Linked DNA regions of Homo sapiens. The protein of the gene in region 1 purifies or fractionates together with the protein of each later gene. This does not show direct contact. Each region holds a gene or a part of one and is shown in the gene's direction. Other genes may lie near its edges. The genes, in order: WNK3, STON2, PIK3C2A, HIP1R, BMP2K and REPS1.

What was found.
Region 2: the proteins of WNK3 (region 1) and STON2 purify together in Homo sapiens (affinity purification with mass spectrometry; one large-scale study listed by BioGRID and IntAct). This does not show direct contact.
Region 3: the proteins of WNK3 (region 1) and PIK3C2A purify together in Homo sapiens (affinity purification with mass spectrometry; one large-scale study listed by BioGRID and IntAct). This does not show direct contact.
Region 4: the proteins of WNK3 (region 1) and HIP1R purify together in Homo sapiens (affinity purification with mass spectrometry; one large-scale study listed by BioGRID and IntAct). This does not show direct contact.
Region 5: the proteins of WNK3 (region 1) and BMP2K purify together in Homo sapiens (affinity purification with mass spectrometry; one large-scale study listed by BioGRID and IntAct). This does not show direct contact.
Region 6: the proteins of WNK3 (region 1) and REPS1 purify together in Homo sapiens (affinity purification with mass spectrometry; one large-scale study listed by BioGRID and IntAct). This does not show direct contact.

Annotation. Positions count from the first base shown.
Region 1 is NC_000023.11:54,197,547-54,201,046, reverse strand, and holds part of WNK3 (serine/threonine-protein kinase WNK3), read left to right. Parts: intron 1-2,393; coding exon 2,394-2,723; 3' UTR 2,724-3,500.
Region 2 is NC_000014.9:81,281,825-81,285,324, reverse strand, and holds part of STON2 (stonin-2), read left to right. Parts: intron 1-3,500. UniProt on the Homo sapiens protein: Adapter protein involved in endocytic machinery. Involved in the synaptic vesicle recycling. May facilitate clathrin-coated vesicle uncoating.
Region 3 is NC_000011.10:17,201,487-17,204,986, reverse strand, and holds part of PIK3C2A (phosphatidylinositol 4-phosphate 3-kinase C2 domain-containing subunit alpha), read left to right. Parts: intron 1-611; exon of another isoform or gene 612-680; intron 681-3,500.
Region 4 is NC_000012.12:122,838,457-122,841,956, forward strand, and holds part of HIP1R (huntingtin-interacting protein 1-related protein), read left to right. Parts: intron 1-3,500. UniProt on the Homo sapiens protein: Component of clathrin-coated pits and vesicles, that may link the endocytic machinery to the actin cytoskeleton. Binds 3-phosphoinositides (via ENTH domain).
Region 5 is NC_000004.12:78,905,350-78,908,849, forward strand, and holds part of BMP2K (BMP-2-inducible protein kinase), read left to right. Parts: intron 1-758; exon of another isoform or gene 759-812; intron 813-3,500. UniProt on the Homo sapiens protein: May be involved in osteoblast differentiation.
Region 6 is NC_000006.12:138,911,754-138,915,253, reverse strand, and holds part of REPS1 (ralBP1-associated Eps domain-containing protein 1), read left to right. Parts: intron 1-492; coding exon 493-557; intron 558-2,303; coding exon 2,304-2,489; intron 2,490-3,500. UniProt on the Homo sapiens protein: May coordinate the cellular actions of activated EGF receptors and Ral-GTPases.

The DNA of each region.
Region 1 (3,500 bases):
TACATTTGTGTACATGTATTGTCATATGTGTACATGTATAGTCATATAGTTTGTTAAAGAAATAATGCATTTATTGTTAATATTGAATAAAAATTTTCAAAATCCTCGATTTCCCAAGCTAGTGAGCAGTATATCTCCTTGGGAGCTCTGTGTATTTATCTTACTTGTGGCACCAATTTATACACAGATAGCATCACCATTGTAAAAATTGGAAGCCTTTAGAGGCAAATTTCAAGACATAAATGCATTTGTACTGCCAGTGAGAGAACCTCTGAGTACTGTGTGAATGGAGGCTTTTGTTGACTAGTTGGAGGGCTGTTTACTGGAGTATAATGGAGGATGTTTGGAGGAAGGGTGAGTAGAAAATGGTGTGTGAATAAAAGTAGTGAACGTCATTTAACAGACTTGGGTTCCAATGTCAGCTCAGTCACTTACTAGTTGTGTGACTTTAGAAAAGTCATTTGATCTATCTGTGCCTCAGTTTTCATGTCTTTCAAACAGAATACCTGCCTTACAGGATTGCTGTGAGGATTAAATGAGATAACACCTATAAAGCTGTACCTTTATAGGTGTTACATAGTAGGTACCCTATATCTAGTAACTATTTTTGTATTTGTAGGTTCAGTTGGTTATATCTTTTGTGTGGCAAGCCCATCTCACTAATGCTCTTACATTGTATTGCTCTGTATCCTTACTCAGAAATACTTGTTTGCTTAACAGTTATGTACCAAGCCCTCTGTTAGACATGGGTTTGGTGAGTAAAAACAAGTATGATCCCTATCCTCATGGAATTTATGCTCTGCTAAGACAGCTAGTTAGACATAACAGAATTGCATATACGAATATAAAATTGCAACCGTAATAAGAACTACAAAAGAAAGATATAGGCTATAATACGGGAAATTTGACCTAGTAAAGGAAAGTCAAGGAAAGCTTCACTGAGAAAGTGATGATTAAGCAGAGATCTGAAGGATGAGTAGGTGTTAACTAGGTGAAAAGAGGAAATGATTCCATGCGGAAAGGATCGCATACGCAAAAGCCCTGTATGAGGAAAGGAGCGTGAAGGGATTGAAAGTAGGCCAGTTTGGCTGAAGTGAAGAGAGCAAAGAGGAGTTAGTGCACAATGGATCTAAGGTAGATGGAGTCTTAAAAGTGGTAATGATAAGGAACTTCATCTGTATTTTTTGTTAGTTTGTTTGTTTTTATTTTTTTTGAGACGGAGTTTCACTCTTGTTGCCCAGGCTGGAGTGCAATGGCGCGATCTCTGCTCACTGCAGCCTATGCCTCCCAGGTTCAACAATTCTGCTGCCTCAGCCTCCTGAGTAGCCGAGATTACAGGCGCTCGCGACCATACCTGGCTAATTTTTGAGTTTTTAGTAGAGACAGGGTTTCACCATGTTGGCCAGGCTGGTCTTGAACTCCTGACCTCAGCTGATCCACCCGCCTTGGCCTCCCAAAGTGCTGGGATTACAGGCGTGAGCCACCGCGCCCAGCCGTCTGTATTTGAAGAAAGATAAATAGCCATTTAAGCCCTAGGGTTGACATGATCAGACTTGTTTTTTGAAAAAATGACTCTGACTCAAGCAAGAGAAAAGGATTATTTATTGGAGGTAAGGGTAGATGTTGGCAGACCAGTTAAGAGTTAGTCATGGTAACTCTTAACTGGTCTGGAAAATGGGAGAAGTTGAGTTGAACAGAAGTGAACAGATTCCAAAAAATGCTTAAGAGATTAAATGGACAAGATTTGGTGATGGAATGGATGTATGGTGAAGGGGAGGTATTAAGGCTAGGTTTCTGGCTCCCATAACTGGATGCTATTCTAGTGTACCAATCACCGAGATGCGGAATGTGAGCAGACAGTGTGCTTTGGTAGGGGAAGATCACACATTTGATTTCTAGGCATTTGTTTCTGAGATGCCTTTGAAATATCCAGGAGAAAATGTATAACCTCTCCAATTTGTCTTTTTTTAAAAATCAGGTTATCTATAAACTAATAATGTTCATTATATAATTTAATCAGTGCAGAAAAGTACAAAATTTAAAATATCACCTTCAAATCCCACCACCCAGAAATAATTTTCATTAACTTTAGATAAACATCATGTCAAATATCTTTCTATGTATGTATGCATGGAAATAACTATAAAAATGTAAGGCAGGGCAGTTATGAAGATGGCATTAATTAAGGTACATAATTATGGTTAGCACACAGAAAGGTGCTCCAAAAATGGTAGTCCCTAATAGTAACAATAGGAATAGTATGCCAAAAAGACTAGGAAGGAATATTCATTTGTGCAGCAGCAATAGAAAAAAAAAGAATAGGAAGGAATATAGACTGATAAAAGTCTATACCAAATAAACTGATCTTTTGTTTTTATTTTTGTTTTTCTTAGAATACTCCGTCTACTATGGGCTACACATCAACATGGATTTCTTCTCTGTCCCAAATCCGTGGAGCTGTCCCAACTTCCTTGCCACAAGGACTCTCACTCCCTTCATTTCCTGGGCCATTATCATCATATGGAATGCCTCACGTTTGTCAGTATAATGCTGTGGCGGGGGCGGGGTATCCAGTACAGTGGGTAGGAATTTCAGGAACAACACAACAATCTGTAGTAATTCCCGCCCAATCTGGGGGACCATTCCAGCCAGGGATGAATATGCAGGCATTTCCAACTTCATCAGTGCAGAATCCTGCCACAATCCCTCCTGGTCCTAAATGAATCAGAGTAGATGGTGATAAAAAGGGAGGTTTTTTCAGAATTATTTTCAGGACACCCAAGATATTAAAGTTTCTTCCTCTTGGGTTCTGTCATATTTTCCCTCATTTGAGTTTACTTTAGACTATATATTTTTTGTTCCAGTGTGGTATTTGATACAGCTCATCATTCTGTAGAAATGTGCAGTTTGCAGATAGAACACTGCACACAGAAATGTTTTTTCACTTCAAATTCTATCCTCTTTGATACTTGATTTTTTAAAAATACTGTTCAGAATGCTTTAATAAGCTCAGCTTGAGCATTACCATTTCCAGGACACTTTCCATGAATTGTTGAGAAGCTCCCCATCCCCCGCCTTTTTTTTTTTTTTTTTTAACTGCTGCTATCTGCAGCTGGATACTCTTCTTTAAAAATGTTTAAAAATTATTTAGATTGATTCTCCCCAAATGTGGATGAACTGAGACCCTCCATCAGCCAGAGTCTTATGGGATCTTCACTTCACATGTTTGTCTTAGGTTTACCTTTCACAGAAGGCAGGGTAACTTGCTGCAGGAAACGTTTTGGTGTATAAAATTAGAATCACTTTTTTTTTTTTTTTTGAGATGGAGTCTCTCTCTGTCACCCAGGTTGGAGTGCAGTGGTGTGATCTTGGCTCACTGCTGCAACCTCCCCCTCCTGGGTTCAAGCGATTCTCCTGCCTCAGCCTCCTGAGTAGCTGGGACTACAGGCGCCAGCCACCATGCCTGGCTAATTTTTGTATTTTTAGTAGAGGATGGGGTT
Region 2 (3,500 bases), on another chromosome or scaffold:
ACTCCTGTGAATGTTAACTTCTCTCATGAATCACAGATGTTTGTAATGGCATCTAGAATGATGAATCCTTTCCAGGAGGTTGTCAGTTTACTTTGCCCCAATCCATCAGAGGAATTACTATCTATGGCAGCCTTACAAAATGTATTTCTTAAATAAGAAGACTTGAAAATCACAATTACTCCTTGATCCATGGGATAGAGAATGGATGTTGTGTTCCACGGCTGCAGGCATGAAAACAACATTAATCTCCTTGTACATCTCTATCAGTGCTCTTGGGTGGCCAGGTGCATTGTCAGTGCGTAGTAATATTTTTGGAAGGAACCTCTTTTTTCTGAGCGGTAGGTCTCAACCTGGGCTTACAATATTCAGTAATTCCTGCTGTAAACAGATGCGTTGTCATCCGGGCTTTGTTCTTCCATTGACAGAGCACAGGCAAGGTAGATTTGCATAATTCTTAAGGGTGCTAAGATTTTTTGAATGGTTAATGAGCAATGGCTTCAACTTAAAGTCACCAGCCACATTGGCCACTAGCAAGAGAGTCAGCCTGTCCTTTGAAGTTTTGAAGCCAGGCATTGACTTTTCTCTAGCTATTAACATCCTAGATGGCATCTTCTTCCAGTAAAAGGCTGTTTTATCTTCAGTGAAAATCTGTTGCTTAGTGTAGCCACCTTCCTCAATTATATTAGGTAAATATTTTGGATAACTTGTTGCAGCTTCTACATTAGCACTTGCTGTTTGACCTTCTACTTTTATGCTATGGAAATGGCTTCTTTCCTTAAACCTCATGAACCAACCTCTGCTAGCTTTATTTATTTATTTATTTTTTCTGCAATTTCCTCACCTCTTTCCACTTTCATAGAATTGATGAGAGGTAGGGCCTTCCTCTGAATTAGGCTCTGGCTTAAGAGAATGTTGTCACTACTTTCTTATCATTCATGTGTTCACTGAAGTGGCACTTTTAATTTCCTTTGAGAAGTTTTCCTTTGCATTCACAACTGGGTTAACTGGCATGGAAGGCCTAGCTTTTGGCCTGTCTCCGCTTTTGACATGCCTTGTTCACTAAGCTTACTCATCTCTCACTCTTGATTGAAAGTAAGAGACATATAACTCTTCATCTGAATACTTAGAGGCCATAGTGGGATTCTTAATTGGCCTAATTTCAATATTGCTTTGTCTCAGGGAATAAGGAGGCCTGAAGAAGAGAGAGAGAGAGATAGGGGAATGGCCAGACTGTGGAGCAGCCCAGAACACACACATTTTATTGATTAAGTTTACCATCTTATATGGGCACAGTTTATGGTGCCCCAAAACAGTTACAATAGTATCATCAAAGATCACAGATCACTGTAACAGATATAATTATAGTGAAAATGTTTGAATGTTGCGAGAATTACCAAAACGTGACCCAGAGACAGAGTGAGCACGTGCTGTTGTAAAGATGGTGCTGACAGACTTTGGGTTGCCACAGATCTTCTAGTCATAAAAAATGCAGTATCTGCTGGGTACAGTGGCTCACGCCTGTAATCCCAGCACTCTGGGAGGCCGAGGCGGGCGGATCATGAGGTCAGGAGATCGAGACCATCCTGGCTAACACAGTGAAACCCCGTCTCTACTAAAAATACAAAAATTAGCCGGGCGTGGTGGCAGGCACCTGTAGTCCCAGCTACTCAGGAGGCTGAGGCAGGAGAATGGCTTGAACCCGGGAGGCGGAACTTGCAGTGAGCCGAGATAGCGCCACTGCATTCCAGCTTGGGCAACACAGCGAGACTCCATCTCAAAAAAAAAAAAAAAAAATGCAGTATCTGTAAAGTGCAGTACAAAAAGACGAGGTATGCCTTTATATGCTGTTATGTAACAGTCACTGCTCTTGCATGTTTAGAAGCCTGCAGTGATGTTAGAACATTTGTTCTTGCCACTCCTAATAAATTCCAGTGAACATTTGTCAATATGGTTTTTTTACAAATTAGGTTAACAAATAAGGGAAAGAAGATAGTAGAGTCTCTATGTTCAAAATGTAGACAATTTTCCTGCCATAGTTCTTACTTTTTATTCAGTTTTAGTGGCTTTGACTACTACTGAAATCACTTTATTTAATTTAATCTTTTAGGAGCTTGAAATAGATTGCGGCCTAACATTAAAAGAATCCACCACTTCTCTTTAGTTTGCATCAGTAAAGACACTAGGAACCTCTTAGGTACTGGAAATTTTCCCTGTGGTGTAGACTGAGAACCTAATCCTTACACATGGCTTTTGTTTGGCAGCAGCCCGACTCATAATAAAAACAATTTGGAGGTAGCCAGTGGAAGGGATAGTAATTAAAATAATGCTGGAGTTTGGGTTTTGGTTTTATTTTAATAAATTAGTAAATTGAATTGTGGAGAAGAATTAGCTTTGTGATCAAGATACTTGGTTTTTGCCTATTTCTTACTGGAGAAATTTGCCAGCTTTTCCCCCTCTCATTGTTTCCAGTCCCAGCCACACCAGTCATAATTGTCTTGGGAAAGATCTAACTGCTGCTTTCTCAATACAGACTATAGCTAAGCACTTTGTTTCCTTTCTCTAAGGCTAATTAGTAGTAATAATAAAGAGATGTTTTGAACTTTTATTATAATGCTATGTTGCTTTATTTTGTAAGGAACATTGCAGTTTTTGAAAGAAAGAATACAGATTTCGAATTTTTTAAATCACCTCTTATCCCATGAGAGATTTGTTTTCACATCAAAATATTACGAGATTATTATATTCCAAAGCTTTCTAATACATACGTACTTTCTATAATGACACATTATCATTCTAGTAGTAGTAGTAGTAGTAGCAGTAGTACTAAGAACAGCCTACATCTACTGAGCATTTATTATTTGTCTGGTAGGATTTAATATTTCCCTAATTTAATATATAGGAAAACTGAGATAGAGGGAAATTTAAGACTTGCCTAGAATCACATATCTAAAAAGCCGTAGGTATGGAATTGAAACGCAGGCAATTTGACTGCAGATTTTAGGTGTTTCTTGTTATTCACTCAACAATATGTCCTAGTCAACTTCCGTGTGAATTAACATGCATCAAGAGCATCATCTTGACAGCTACATGGAATTTCATTTTAAGGGTATGACCACTGATGTAACTAGTCTCCCATTGTTGGGCATTCAGGTTTTTTCATGTTTTTCTGTGATAGAAGCATTGCTGTAATAAACATCACTGTGTACATCGTTGCATGCTTGTCCTGTTATTTCCTTAGGATAAACTCTTAGAATTTATTTCTTACAATTCTCAGATTTCTTTAAATAAATTATTTCATAGAAAAACAAAATCTCAATTTCAGAAATTTTACCTATGCCCTGCTACCATCCCAGAGAATAAGTTTTAAAAATACATGCAATTATGGGACATGAAACTGCCAAAGGGAAGATAATTTTGTAACAAAGTCTTTTGATATTTTTTAATGACTGTCAGAAAGAAAATAGAATCCCTAGAAATTAATTGAATTCAAACATTTCCCT
Region 3 (3,500 bases), on another chromosome or scaffold:
AAGCTGGTCTTGAACTCCTGACCTCAAGTGATCCGCCCGCCTCGCCCTCCCAAAGTACTGGGATTACAGGTGTGAGCCACTGCGCCTGGCCTATGCATTGTATTAATTTAGCATATTCCAAAAATAATTTAAGACAGGCAAATGATAAATGTGGATGTTTCTGGTGGTGCATCACATTGTAGGTGATTTCATTTTAGTAGTTGTACCTGCATAGGGCTAAAAATTAACCCTCTCAAAGCTCTGAGAGTGCCGGAGGGCCTGAAAGAGTGCCTGGTACTTCAAAGGTTCCCAGGGATAAGAAAAATGAATGAGACAGTGCTTGCTCTCAAGAATTTCTCATCCATTTGGAAGACAACGTACATTTTATAACAGTATAATTATAAGGGCAGGCTAAATAGGATATGGTCACCTGGGCTGGGAGATGGAAAAGGAATGAGGGGGTTTGAGGAGGAAGAGGATGCTCAAGTTGAGTCTTAAATGATTAATTCCTTCTATTCATAAGGGCAGGATGGATAAACGTGATCAGGTTCTAGGCCCTGCTCTGCTTCTATCAAGCGGTGAGATATTGAGCAAACTGCTTAATACTTCTGGTATCCATTTTCCTTATTCAGGATTCGACTACATATATAAAGCAGTGCTGTACATGAGAAATATGTGAGCCAAAAATGGGAGTCACATAGGTAGGAGATTTTACATTATTTTTTTCCCCTAAATCTTTTAAATCTGGTGTATGTTACACTTGGTACATCTCAATTTGGAACAGCCACATTTCAGGCACTTAATAGCTCCATGTAACTAGTAACTGCCATATTGGACAGTATAGATCTAGAGGCTGGGTGCATTAATGCATGCCCATAGTCCAGTGCTTTGGAGGATCGAGGCAGGAGGATCTCTCTTTTTTTTTTTTTTCTTTGAGACGGAGTCTCGCTCTGTCGCCAAGGCTGGAGTGCAGTGGCGTGATCTCCGCTCACTGCAAGCTCCGCCTCCCAGGTTCACACCAGTCTCCTGCCTCAGCCTCCCGAGTAGCTGGGACTACAGGCGCCCGCCACCACGCCCAGCTAATTTTTTATATTATTTTAGTAGAGACAGGGTTTCACGGTGTTAGCCAGGATGGTCTCAATCTCCTGACCTTGTGATCTGCCCGCCTCGGCCTCCCAAAGTGCTGGGATTACAGGCGTGAGCCACTGTACCCTGCCAGCAGGAGGATCTCTTGAGCCTAGGAGTTTGAGGCTGCAGTGAGCTATGATCACCACTGCACTCCAGCTTGGGTAACAGAGTGAGACACTGTCTCAAAAAACAACCACCACCACAAAAAAGATCTAGAGGCTATTCTGTCTTGGTTCTCTGCTTGAAAAAGGAAAAGGGACTCCAATGAGAAAATTATCACTGGTAATTTATAATTTGTAATCATTTTGATGGTACTCATATATGATGTTCTTTTGATGAGAATTATGGTCATACTTGCAAATATTGCTGTAAGTATCTTTCAGGTTGTTCATAGGATTATGGTTGGGATGAGAAGAAATGTCTTTGTTTTCTCTGCATCTGTAGTGGAGTCATATTTTTGTTATCTTTATTTTGTTCATTTATGTATACTTTGTATCCTTTTTTTCTACAGTATGTTATTTCTTTTTTTCTTTCTTCTTTTTTTTTTCTAATAGAGATGGTGTCTCACTATGTTGACCAGGCTGGTCTTGAACTCCTGGCCTCAAGCGATCCTCCCATCTTGGCCTCCCAAACTGCTGGGATTACAGGCATGAGCCACTGCACTCGGCCTGCAGTCTGTTTTTCTAATGTAATGGATTTAAAACACAATGAGAGTGCATATGGACATTTTAGAAAGTTAAAAGGAGAATTTATACAATTTTAAACTAATTCTTGGATTTCTTAAAATTTTAAACTTAGCTATTTGGGTACAAAAACAAATGGGATTTATAAATCCTCTTTTAATAGATTTGAAGGCAGTTATTGTTGGCTTAGCAACAAGTATTTATCTTTTAACCTTGAGACTGCATTAAGATAGTGTATAATTAACATGCTTACTGTTAAACATAAGGCTTTCTGTTAGTATTACAGTATAACAGTTACATTATTGATATGACTGATGTGCAATGTTGGTGCACTTAATTTGCTGTGCACTGAGCTTGGTTAAAAAACACTAGTGGCTAATTTTAGACAAGATAGCTATGACTGACAATAATACATCTTTACACTTGGATTGACTGATGGTTATAGCTTAGCTAACACTGTTTTCCCTCCAAGACCTTATTACCTGTGAGGTAAATACAGCAAGTATTCTGATTTTGCTGAGGCCCAAAGATGTTGTGACTTACTTAGCATAATAAATTAGAAGCATTGCTTGAATTCAGGTCTTAACAATGCTAGGCCCAGTGTTCTGTTCTTTTTTTTTTTTGAGGGAGGTTCTCTCTGTGTCGCTCAGGCTGGAGTGCAGTGGCTCCATCTCAGCCTACTGCAACCTCTGCCTCCCACACTTGGGTGATTCTCCCACCTTAGCCACCCAAGTAGCTGGGACTACAAGCACGTGCCATCACGCCTGGCTAATTTTTGTGTTTTTTGTAGAGGAGGGGTTTTGCCACATTGTCCAGGCTGGTCTTGAACCCCTGGGCCCACCTTGGCCTCCTAAAGCGCTGAGATTACAGGCATAAGCCACCACGTCCACCCCAGTATTCTTTTCTTTTCTTCCTTCTTTCTTTTTTTTTTTTTTTTCTGGAGATGAAGTCTCACTCTTGTCGCCCAGGCTGGAGTACAATGGCGCAATCTCAGCTCACTGCAACCTCCGCCTCCTGGGTTCAAGTGATTCTCTTGCCTCAGCCTCCCGAGTAGCTGGGATTACAGGTGCATGCCACCATGCCCGGATAATTTTTGTATTTTTGGTAGAGATGGGGTTTCACCATTTTGGCCAGGCTGGTCTTGAACTCCTGACCTAAGGCGATCTGCCCGCCTCTGCCTCCCAAAGTGCTGGGATTACAGGTGTGGGCCACCGCCCCGGGCCCCAGTATTCTTTTCATTGAATCTCTTCATATGGCATTTGAGTGTTTAGATACATAGTACAAACCAGATTTTTGGAGTGTATAAAGAAATAGTTACTTCCTGCCTTTGGGAAGTTTATATTCCAACTAGGAGAGACCAACTAACTACAATCCATGTAGCAAAAAGTACTTCAGTTATTTAAAAAAATTTGTTACGGGAAAGAAAAGATGTAAGGGATAATATAGTCAAATGGAAAATAGATAAGAGTTAATTAGACAAGATTTTTGAGTAAAGAGTTTAGATTGTAAATCCTTACTATAGGAAGAAGAAGATGATGAGGTGTTAAGGATAGTGTTATTTCAATGCACAGAGAACAACTTAAGGGAAAACTTAGCTAAGGGAACATAAAACGTAGGTTTAGGGAAAGCTTTTCTTTTTTTTTTTCTTTTTTCTTTTTTTTTTTTTTTTTTGAGACGGAGTCACGTTCTTTCACCAGGCTGTAGTGCAGT
Region 4 (3,500 bases), on another chromosome or scaffold:
GAGGGTGTGGTATCATAAAGGCACTAGTAGGTAGATAGACCTAGGCTCTAGCCTGTGTCCCTGGCAAGTTGCTTAACTTGTAAATCTATGTCCTTGTCTGAAAAAAAAACCATACAGATCGTTCCAGCTATCGTATAGGGCTGTTGTAAGGTGTAAGAGAGAGACCGTGTGGCAGCTAGAACCTGTGACTACGTTAATGACTTAGTAAGGCGTTGCAGGTGGAATTAGAGTTTTTCATCAGCTGAGATGGTCCTTGAGATGGGGCGATTCTCCTGGGCTACCAGGTGGGCTCAGTGTAATCACAAAGGTCTTTAAATGTGGACAAGGGAGGCAGGAGAGGAGGTCGGACTGAGTCCATGTGAGAAAGACTCACTGCCTGCTGCTGGGGAGGAGCCACTAGCCAAGGAGTATGGGCATCCTCCACAGCCTGGAAAAGGCGAGGAAATGGATTCTTCCCTAGAGCCTCCAGGAGGAAACACAGCCTTTCTGACACTTTGCTTTTAGTCCTGTGAGACCTGTTTTAGACTTCCGACCTCCAGAACTGCGAGTTTGTGTGATTTGTTATGGCAGCCATAAGGAACTAATACATCCAGTATGTAAACATGAAAGAGCACCTAGGGCATAGAAGGGCCTCAGCAGATACTTGGCCCAACCGTCTTTCTCCCTTCCCTTCCTCGGCTGAAAAGTTTAACATCTAGAGAAGAAAGCATCTTTGAAGCATATCATGAAGAAGGACTCAGTTAGGAGTACTGGAAATGCTAATGGTGAGTCCTGCCTTTTCCTGATCTGTGAACCTTTCTGCTTCACTGGGCCTCAGTTTCCACTGCAGGCCCACAGGATGGAGATCAAGCCCAGAAGATTCCTCTCAGGTTAGGATGAGAGAAACCCTTTACTACACTGCAAGGCCTCTGGCCACTGCTGAGTGAGCCAAGTCTGGCGGGTGAGCATTAACTGTAGACATGAAACTACCCAGGTGTAAGGGGTTCCTGTGGGGCAGGGACTGTCTAGGGCAGCAATATGTGGAAACAGTTCATAGGTCCAATTTTCCAGGTTGGTGACATACATGCTTAGCATCCCCCGTGAAACCAAAATCCTGTCAAGATTAACATTTATTGACAACTGAGGGCTTCTCAGCCCCGGCACACAGTAGAGCAGTGTTGTCCAGGAGGAACCAGAGGCAAGCCACGTGTGTACTTTTAGATTGTCTAGTAACTACTAGAAAAGTCAACAGAAACAGGTGCGATTAACTGTAATAGCATATTTTATTTAACCCAGTATATCCAAAAGCTAGCCCTTTCAACATGTAATTGCCACAAAAATTATGAATAGGAGAATTTACATTCTTTTTCTCCTACTAAATCTTTGAAATAGGTATGCACTGGACACTCACAGCTGATCTCAGTCTGGACTCACCACCTTTCCAATACTCACAGCCCGCACCGGCCAGCGGCTACCGTGCCGGACAATGCAAGTGTTAGAATCACCTGGTGGCTTTTAGAAAAGGGCAACATTTACGTGTATAGGAGTGATTTGCCCGCAGCATGGCATGGGCGTTGAGCTCGTTGTTCCTGGGCATGCGCACTGCTGTCTCGCCCCGTGACATCCTCTGCTCGGTTCCACCCCATCAGCCCACATGGTGATGCCCTCGTGGTGATGCCCGGCAGGCCGCTGACTTCCCGACCCCTGGGCTGCATATTGCCTCCCTGGCAGAGCTATTCCAGAGGCTGTTCTTGGTCCAGGTTGGGGTGGGAAGGGGCCACCCATCCTTGACCTCCCCCTCCCTGTCTCTGATGTGTTTTGATGCCCATGACACATTCCTGAGCGCCGCTTGCTGTCTTACCATTTGGCCTGTTCCTGTAGCTTTGGGGTGTGCCCCAGGAAGGTCCGAGTCATCTTTGTACCCTCTAAGAGGTGGAGAGATGCCAACTGTGGCCACGTGTGGAATGGTAGGGCAGTCAAGAGCAAGCTCCAGGTTCAGCCCCTGGCTCTGTCCCTTCACCACTCTGCCTCAGTTTCCTTATCTACAAAATGGGGGCAATAATACTACACACCTCCTGGAGTGGTTGTGAAGAAATTTACAGGTGTTCATAGTGCCTGGTGTGTAGTGAATGCCGTGTAAGTGTTGGCTGTTATGTTGTGTTCAGAAGAGCAGGCTGGGCTGAAAGAGAGAAACAAGCTCCCTGTTGAGCTCTGCCCGGTGCCCTTAGATTAGCTGTAAGCGGAGGCCTTGTGTGCTGGGGCGGTTGGGGAGAAAAGTGGATCTGCACAGAGGTTGGGGGGACTCAGGCAGGTGGGGACAGCCCTTCCCTGGAAGAGTGAGCCCAGAGGTGCCACATTATGAAGGCTCTCCAGGGTTGGGAGGATATTCTGGGGGACGACAGCCTCAGGAGGTGCAGACAAAGCCAGCAGGAGCCTTGCCTGGCAGAACTGCTCACCCTCTGAATAGGGACAGGCGCAGACGAGGCCCCTTCTCTGACCTGATCCAGAAGCCAGCCTCCCAGCCAGCGCTGCACCGGTCATTCGCGAATGAAACCCAGCTGGCCACTGGATCCCAGCAGCTTAAAGTGGAAAGCCTCTGAGTGGAGTCCAGGCCTGCTTGGCCAAGGGACAGGGATACCCAGCCGGCTAACCTGAGACGCCTTGGCTGCTCTGTTGGCAATGCCCTTACCCGCCCCCTCCCCGCCCAACTTGGTAATCTGCGATGCTAACTTGAATATCACCTCCTCTGTGCAGCCACCCGCTGCCGTCCTCCTGCCCAAGCCTCTCTGTGCTGCCCAGTCCTCATGACATTATTTGCGCTGCTTCCACATCTGCCCTGACACGCTGTGGCTGGCCCAGCAGAGCGGGAGGAAGCAGACAGACATGGGGTGGGCGCATGTGTAGACCAGGCTCGCCTGAGAAGTGGGAGTGTGTCATCTCCTTGCCGAGTTCCCTGAGCAACTGCTCAGACCTGCACCAGCCACCTACCCTGGGGTCATCAGGCAGGGCCGCGTCGTAAGTGGCTGGATGAGTGGATGCTCAGGGGCCAGTGGTCTCCCTTCTTTGATGCTGTCTTCTTGGTGAGGTCTGAAAGGCTCATGGCCATCCATTCTAGGGAATGACTGAGGCCTGGAGAAAAGTTTATTTGGGGCGAGATTGTTTTTTCTCTGGCTAAAATAAACATGATCCTCAAACTGCAGTAGGTTCATCTGCTTGGAGGTGACTCAGGCTCCTGGCTTTTGGGACAGACGGGTTTGTGGAGTGATGTCACCAGGGCCCAGGGAATGAAACTGCACGACCTGGCTGCCTGTCACTTCCAGAGCCAGCCTGGCAGAGGGGTGACGCAGGAACAGTCCTCCTACTACTGGGTGTCACCCACAAAGCCTGGGGCGGAGGTGGCAGTGGGTCAGGCGGCAACATTGTAACCAGTGTCCTGGGGAACCTGGGCTCTCATGCTCCCCTCGGGAGCTTTCCTAAACGCTGAAATGACGGAGTGGCCAGGACCAAGCAGGCCTGGGTGA
Region 5 (3,500 bases), on another chromosome or scaffold:
TTGACTAGAAACCATCAAAATATCATTCTACCATATTTAGTTAAAGAAAAAGAAGAAATACATTACTTAGAGCCAAAAATAAAAACAGTGGGTGAATATATGAAATTTCACAGTATACTAAAATAATGTAAATGAGTTATGATTCTGTGCACCATCTACACAGTTTTTAATGCTGTAAATACATGTTGTTAGTGCTTATTCTAAATATTATACCCCCATCTCCCACCTACTTGAAGAACAGCTATTTTTATGTTAATAATACAGATCTCAGTAAATATGGGGATTATTAGGATTTAGGGTATATTGAATTATAAAGCAACATATTTAGGCTTATACTTTTGGGAAATTAACTTTAGCAGTGAAATAATCCTGATTAAATTTCATAGTAAATCAAATGTGTATTATTTAATCTAACAACTAGTGGGAATCTGGCCCCAGACACAAATAGTGGGAAGATCTGAAATTTTTTTTTTTAAATTATAGGAATATGTTTAGGCAAAGAAATGGAGTATGAAGGTTTATGGCATTCTTAGCTAGAGGTCACATTCTAAAGTGCTGTGCATTGTATAGTTATAACCAACTTTATAACTTAAAATACTTATTCTGACAGTCTTTTATGTCTATGGAATAGGACTGAAAGCCTTAGAATATACTGAAATACTTTTTATTTTTGTGTAATTCACCTTTCTTTCCCAGCTCTTCTGTAGTTTCATGATGAATAGATGATTAAGTAGATCACTGCTACTGCAGAAACTTACCTTGGATTGTGGTAACTTGCAGCCTGGAACCTAACTTTTCCTCAGCAGGAGGTACTGGAGAGATAAAAGGATTAATAGTTTGTCTTAGTATGCTTTCAGAGAGCCTCATTACTGCTCTTTACTTTTTATAAGTTTATAACAGCAGTAAAAGTGTAGAGTGAAATATTTAAACAATGTCAGTGTGGGTTGCAAGAATATGGGAGAAAACAGGAATTTGGATAAATATTTTTGATTGTTATTTTAGTTTTATGTAGGGGGGCAAAATAAGTAAAACCAGTCTATCTACACCAACAGAAAATTTCCCCAGTTGCCCGTACTATTTGCAGATGTAACCTGAAAGCACAAAGGTGGTATAGATGATTGTGTCTTTTCTTGCTCTTTTTGAAAGTGTGTTTCCATTTCTTATACTGTGTTCTCAAATATAGCTGTCTAAAAATCAAAAATAGAATTTCCAGGATCTAAAATGTACCCTTATGCTGTGTGGATATACATTTGTTGGTCTACTTACTTCTGGTCAGTTCTGAAGTGGATCTCAGCTCCTCTTGAATTAGCCATAGACTTGCTTCTCCCTACACTTCTCCCTCATTTATATTCACCTGCAACCACTGGGCCCAGAAAAGTTACTAGAAGCTTATTGGGTATGATGGATAAAATAATTGAATTTGGCCATTCCCAGGACATGATGATGGTAGAGTGCTTATTATGTGTTCAGGCACCGTTCTAAGTCCTTTCTTCACAATAGCTCTATGATATAAAATGTGTTATCCCATTTTGTGTATAAAGAAAGTGGAATAGTGGTGACCTTGTCAGGATTATTATTGGGTTAGCTTTAGTAGCTGTGTTAATTACCCATGAGGAGGGAATCATAGTATATAAATAAAGTGAAATTGATACTAAAAAAGGAGGGTTTCCTTTTTACTCCTTGAAGGAAAAAGTGCATGAATCATGGTTGTATCTAAAATGCCGAAAAACTAGAAACAACCTAAATATTCTATTGCTAAATAGTGAACAGTTATATATGGAATATTTTATCATATTTCTATCAGAATAAATAATAGACTGTTGATACCTGAAAAGATGCATTAAAAATAGTAAGTTAAAAACCCACAGATTTATACCCACACTGACAATTATAAATGTGTATTTCTATTAATACAACTTTGATAAATGGACAAAGGGCCAACAGAATGAGAAGTATAAAGTGACAGATGTCTTCTGAAAAGTAATGGTAGCCAGTTGAATAATGAAAACAGTAAATTTTAAGAAGACTAGGGAGTACAATGTAATAATTTTAAAAAGAAGGCGAATTTAAATTCACTTCCAAGTGACACTCTCCAAGATGAATTATCTGTCCTACGTTAAATGTTCCAGAAGACCTTCAGGAACACAACTAGAAATGGAAAATTTCAAGATAAGTTGTATAGCAGCATTTCCCCAAAGTACTTTTGCATAGTTGGTTTTAAAGGTTAACAGGCATTACATGTAAATAAAAGGGTAGTGAAGACAATTTGGGAAATCCTAGGGTTCATAAAATTAGATTCTTTTGTGTAGGACTCATTAGCACCTTTAATGAGCATACTCCAGGTGAGTAGGAGTGGAGGCAGAATGCAGAGTGCACCATTTCATAGACTTGTTTGCTTGAGACCACAGAACTGTTTGTCTTGGTTCTTGTTAGGGAAATAGCCTCTGCAGAATACACTTTGGGCAACATTGGAATGTTACTTGGAGGTGTCCGTGAGCAGGCGTGAGGTGTGAATGTTGTGGCTGTGGGTGGGTATGCAGCTCGAGGAGTAATACGTTAAACGTTTCACAGTCAGGGATGATGGGAAATCTTCTGGAACCGTACATATTTTATTTTCATTTTTCCCTTCTTCCCATATTTTGCTTTTGAATAAAAATTCATAAAAATAAATTCACTAAAATTAACTTTGTTTTTAATATCATAAATACGCTGTGTAGGGAAGAAGTCAAACTTGAGAATCTGCATTTGATTTGCTTTTAATCTGGAAGGATAACAAATACAGCATGTAGCTCTTGGCTGGTTTTAAGGAACTGACAGAAGATTATATTTGCAATTAAGTATAACCTGGTGGTATTCTTCACATACTTGTCTCCCACACATTCTTTAGCACCACTACTCATGTCAACATTGCCAACAAACTATACAAGATGACCAGATCCAGTGGCCATTTTATGTCCTTAGTTTACTGGACCTCTTTGCACCATCCAGCTCAGTTGTCTGTTACCTCCCTCAAACATTCTTCTCTCTCCATTTCTGTGACATTGCACTCAGCTGTTTTCTTCCTCCTCTCTGGCTGTTACTTTGTAGTTTGTTTTGTATGTTCATCTTCCTCTGCTGACTTCTGAATGTTTTATACTGAGGGCTCAGTTTTGGATCTTCTTTTCTTCTATGTTTTCTTCCGAGGTATGCCCTTTAGTCTTGTGGCTCTCTCTGCATACCAACTGCATGGTGATAACTCCCAAATCTATTTTCTTCAGCCAAAAACTAACCATTGGTTTCAAATCACAGATACCTAACTGCTGTACACTTAAATGTTGTCTCACACATATGTCAAGCTTAATGTCTCCAAACAAAATTTTTAGTACTCCTCTTCACTTTCCAACTTACTCATTTTTTAAAAAATTATGCTCATTAAAATTTGTGTGTGGGTACATAGTAGGTATATACATTTATGGGGTACATGAGATATGTTGATACAGGTATACAGTGCATAATAATCA
Region 6 (3,500 bases), on another chromosome or scaffold:
GAAGAAGAGTCATAACTTACCCAGGTTTTTAATTTTTGAAGAACTGGCAGTATTGTTGTTACCTTGGTTAAAATAGAAAAGTTAGGGCAGAGGATGATGAAGTTATGTTTTAGTCACTGTGAGTTTAGAATGGTGAGGAAAAGTGAAGTGTTAAGTGAAAGGGAAAATTTGGAAGTTTTCATTTGATACCTAAACAGCAGTCAGAGATACACGAAGAAAATCAAGATTGTTTGCTATTATGGGAATAGGCAGGAGTATGCCAGGAGGGCTTCATGTAATAGAGGTAAGAAGCAAAGTGAGATCTGATGAAAGGCTGTGAGATTTGGTCTTTAGGTTACATACAGACCATGTAACAAGTTAGTACTTGCCTTCTAATACTTAACAAACATTCTTAGAAATCTTTATCATGTAGTCACATTCATTCAGCCTATTTCTTCTATTAACAAAGTGATTATACAGTTACTAAAAAGAAGAACTTTTGTATTCATGCAGGACAACAACAGGCTGGAGTTGTTGCCCATCCTCCTGCAGTGCCTCCAAGACCACAGCCCTCACAGGTAATTCTCCAAGGTATTTATTACTAAATGTCCCATGATCACTTTGCCTGCTAGGTATTTAATTCTATTCTCAAATTATTTGGAAGGTCAGGAATGATCTGTTGGTAATCTTTAATGAGCATTTAATTCAGTGAGGCTGAATCTCATTTTGAAAGATGCACATTTCAAGAATGATCTGAGTTATTTTTTGAAAGAGCCTTAAAAGTGAAACAAATGATAATGTCTTGACAGAGAAGAGTTTAGTGGAAACAACAATGGATTGGGAGATAGGAAATATCCATTAATGTCCTGGGTCTAGCAGTGACTCACAAAATCACTTCACCAGGCTGGGTGCAGTGGTTCACACCTGTAATTGCAGCACTTTGGGAGGCTAAGGCAGTAGGATTTCTCAAGCCCAGGAGTTCCAGACCAGCCTGGACAACATAGTGAGACCCCCATCTCTAAAAACAAAACAAAAAAATTAGCTGGGTGTGGTGGTGTGCACCTGTAGTCCCAGCTACTTGGGAGGCTGAGGTGGGAGGATCTCTTGAGCCTGGGAGATCAAGGCTGCAGTGAGCTGTAATTGCACCACTGCACTCCAGCCTGGATGACAGAGTGAGACCCTGTCTCAAAACAAAACAAAATACCCCTAAATAACCTCACTGCATCTCTCTGGATGTGTTTACCACATGAGTTAAGGAAGTATAATGACCTCTGCATCCCTTCCACATCAAAATTAGAGTGCTGTAGTAGACATTTATAAAATGCTTTGGGACAGCCTTAGTGGCTAAAGTTAAGGATCACATTATACATGAAATGAAGGAATGAGACTTAGCAGGGACTTGAAAGATAAAGTGGAATTTATTGGGGAAAAGGTATTCCAAACCGAAGGTATGACATCCACAAAGCGATGGAGGTTTGTGTTAAGCCTGGCACATTCCTCAGGGGAAAACAAGTTAGTTCAGCACAACAGGAGTAGATGTGTGGAGTGATGAGAAATGAAGCTGTCCATATCGTAGTAAGAAGGATAGACTTTTTCTTAGAGGAGATGAAGAATTTTTAAAGGGAAGAGACTTCAGATTTCTTTCTTTAGTATCCTTTACTTCCTTTGTCATAAAACATCTCACACTCTATTTTAATTTCTTATTTACTTATTCTCTTCTCCTGCTCCGGACTGTCAGCTTTATTAGAGTATAAGTGGGCCTCATTTGTTTTGTTCACAAGTACATATTCAGTAAACATATTTTTAGACTGAAGATGGAGCAGCATTGGTCTGGCTGGCAAAGGAGTGGAAGATGAATTGAAGGGAAGTGTTCCTGACATGTTGGGAGGATAGAGCAGTGGTTTTCACACTTTTTAGAGCAAGCTTTTTAAGAAACAGTGAAACATTAAAAAAAAATAACTTATTTAAGGAAGAAACTATTGTGCATTAGTCCAATTAAGAAAAAAACACATGCAAGTGGAGAATGGGGGTAGGGCCAGACCTACCCTCTCCTTCATTGTACTTTCTTTGCAATACAGTTTTTGAAAAAAAATATCTTTTTATTGGAGGTTTATCATCTTAATTTTTTTTTTAGTGTCTTAGCTTTTCACTTATGGTTTAATCATTTCTTTAGAGCTAAATGTTACTATAATACACCTCTCTGAACTTACAGATAATAAAACAGGTCATCTTTATATACTAAGTTTTCGAAGAAGAAGAAGATGACTCTGTGACACTGATAGGCTGATAGAATGTGTGTTCCTCTGTTCTGAACCATTGCACAGGCTCCTGGTCCTGCTGTGCATCGCCCAGTGGATGCCGATGGCCTCATAACTCACACTAGTACCTCACCTCAGCAGATACCAGAGCAACCAAATTTTGCAGATTTCAGTCAGTTTGAAGTATTTGCTGCATCAAATGTAAACGACGAACAAGATGATGAAGCCGAGAAACATCCAGAAGTCCTGCCGGTCAGTTTTCGAGGGCTTGGCTAATTTTCTGCAGGCAGTCACTTCCCATACCATGTTGTGTCAACAGAGCAGATATTAGAGGGGACATCAGTGAGTAAAATATTCCCTGGGTCAGTGCTTCTCATCTTTTTTATTGGCCTCCAATATCTGCTGGTTGCAGTGTAATGCTTACTAAGTATCAGAGTCTGGTGGGGGTGGGGGATTGATATCACATGCAAAGACACCACCGCCTGGCCGTGGCTAAAACGCTGCTTTGGGGGTTTCCATCTTAATGCTAAGCATCTGTCTGTGTGATTTGGTGAAGATTTCCCTGTCATAAGAGGCCATGGTTACCATAGCTCCACTCATTGCAACTTTTCCCCAAGGGGAATTTCACTATATGTAACTTTTAGATCTAATTACAACTTTAACTAAAAACAAATTTCAGCCAAACTTCTAATTAAAGCATTTAAAATTTGTATGAGAGTAAGTTGCCTTAGTTAAGCAAAGACTATAGGATACCAAAATTTAATATTCACAGTGTTCTAGGATATTCTATTGTAGTTCCAATGGCAAGAACCTCTCTAGGAATCTCTGACCTAAATTGCTGAGCATAAATGTGGAGTTGGAGAGACCAGAGGAATTCTGCAATCTCTTTCTTATAGGTCATAGCCATGGAAAATTTCCTACTAGCTCCCTTTTAAAACCTACAACTTTCTGCCGTGCCCATTAGGGGACTGGGCTGCATCTAGGAGGGTCAGAGTGGGCATGTAGAGGTGTGCACAGGGTACCGTACTCACTCCCCTGGGTGGATGCCTCCCTTCTCCCAACCACGAAGACTTCCCAGACTAACCACTTAGAGGTTCGGTGCAGTGGCTGCATCCTCACCCCGTCCTCCTCTCCCTCACACATTTATGACCTGCATCCTCGCCTGTCCTCCTCTCCCTCACACATCTATTACATAGCTGCATCCTCGTCCCCTCCTCCTCTCCCTCACACATCTACTACCTGCATCCTCACCCCATCCTCCTC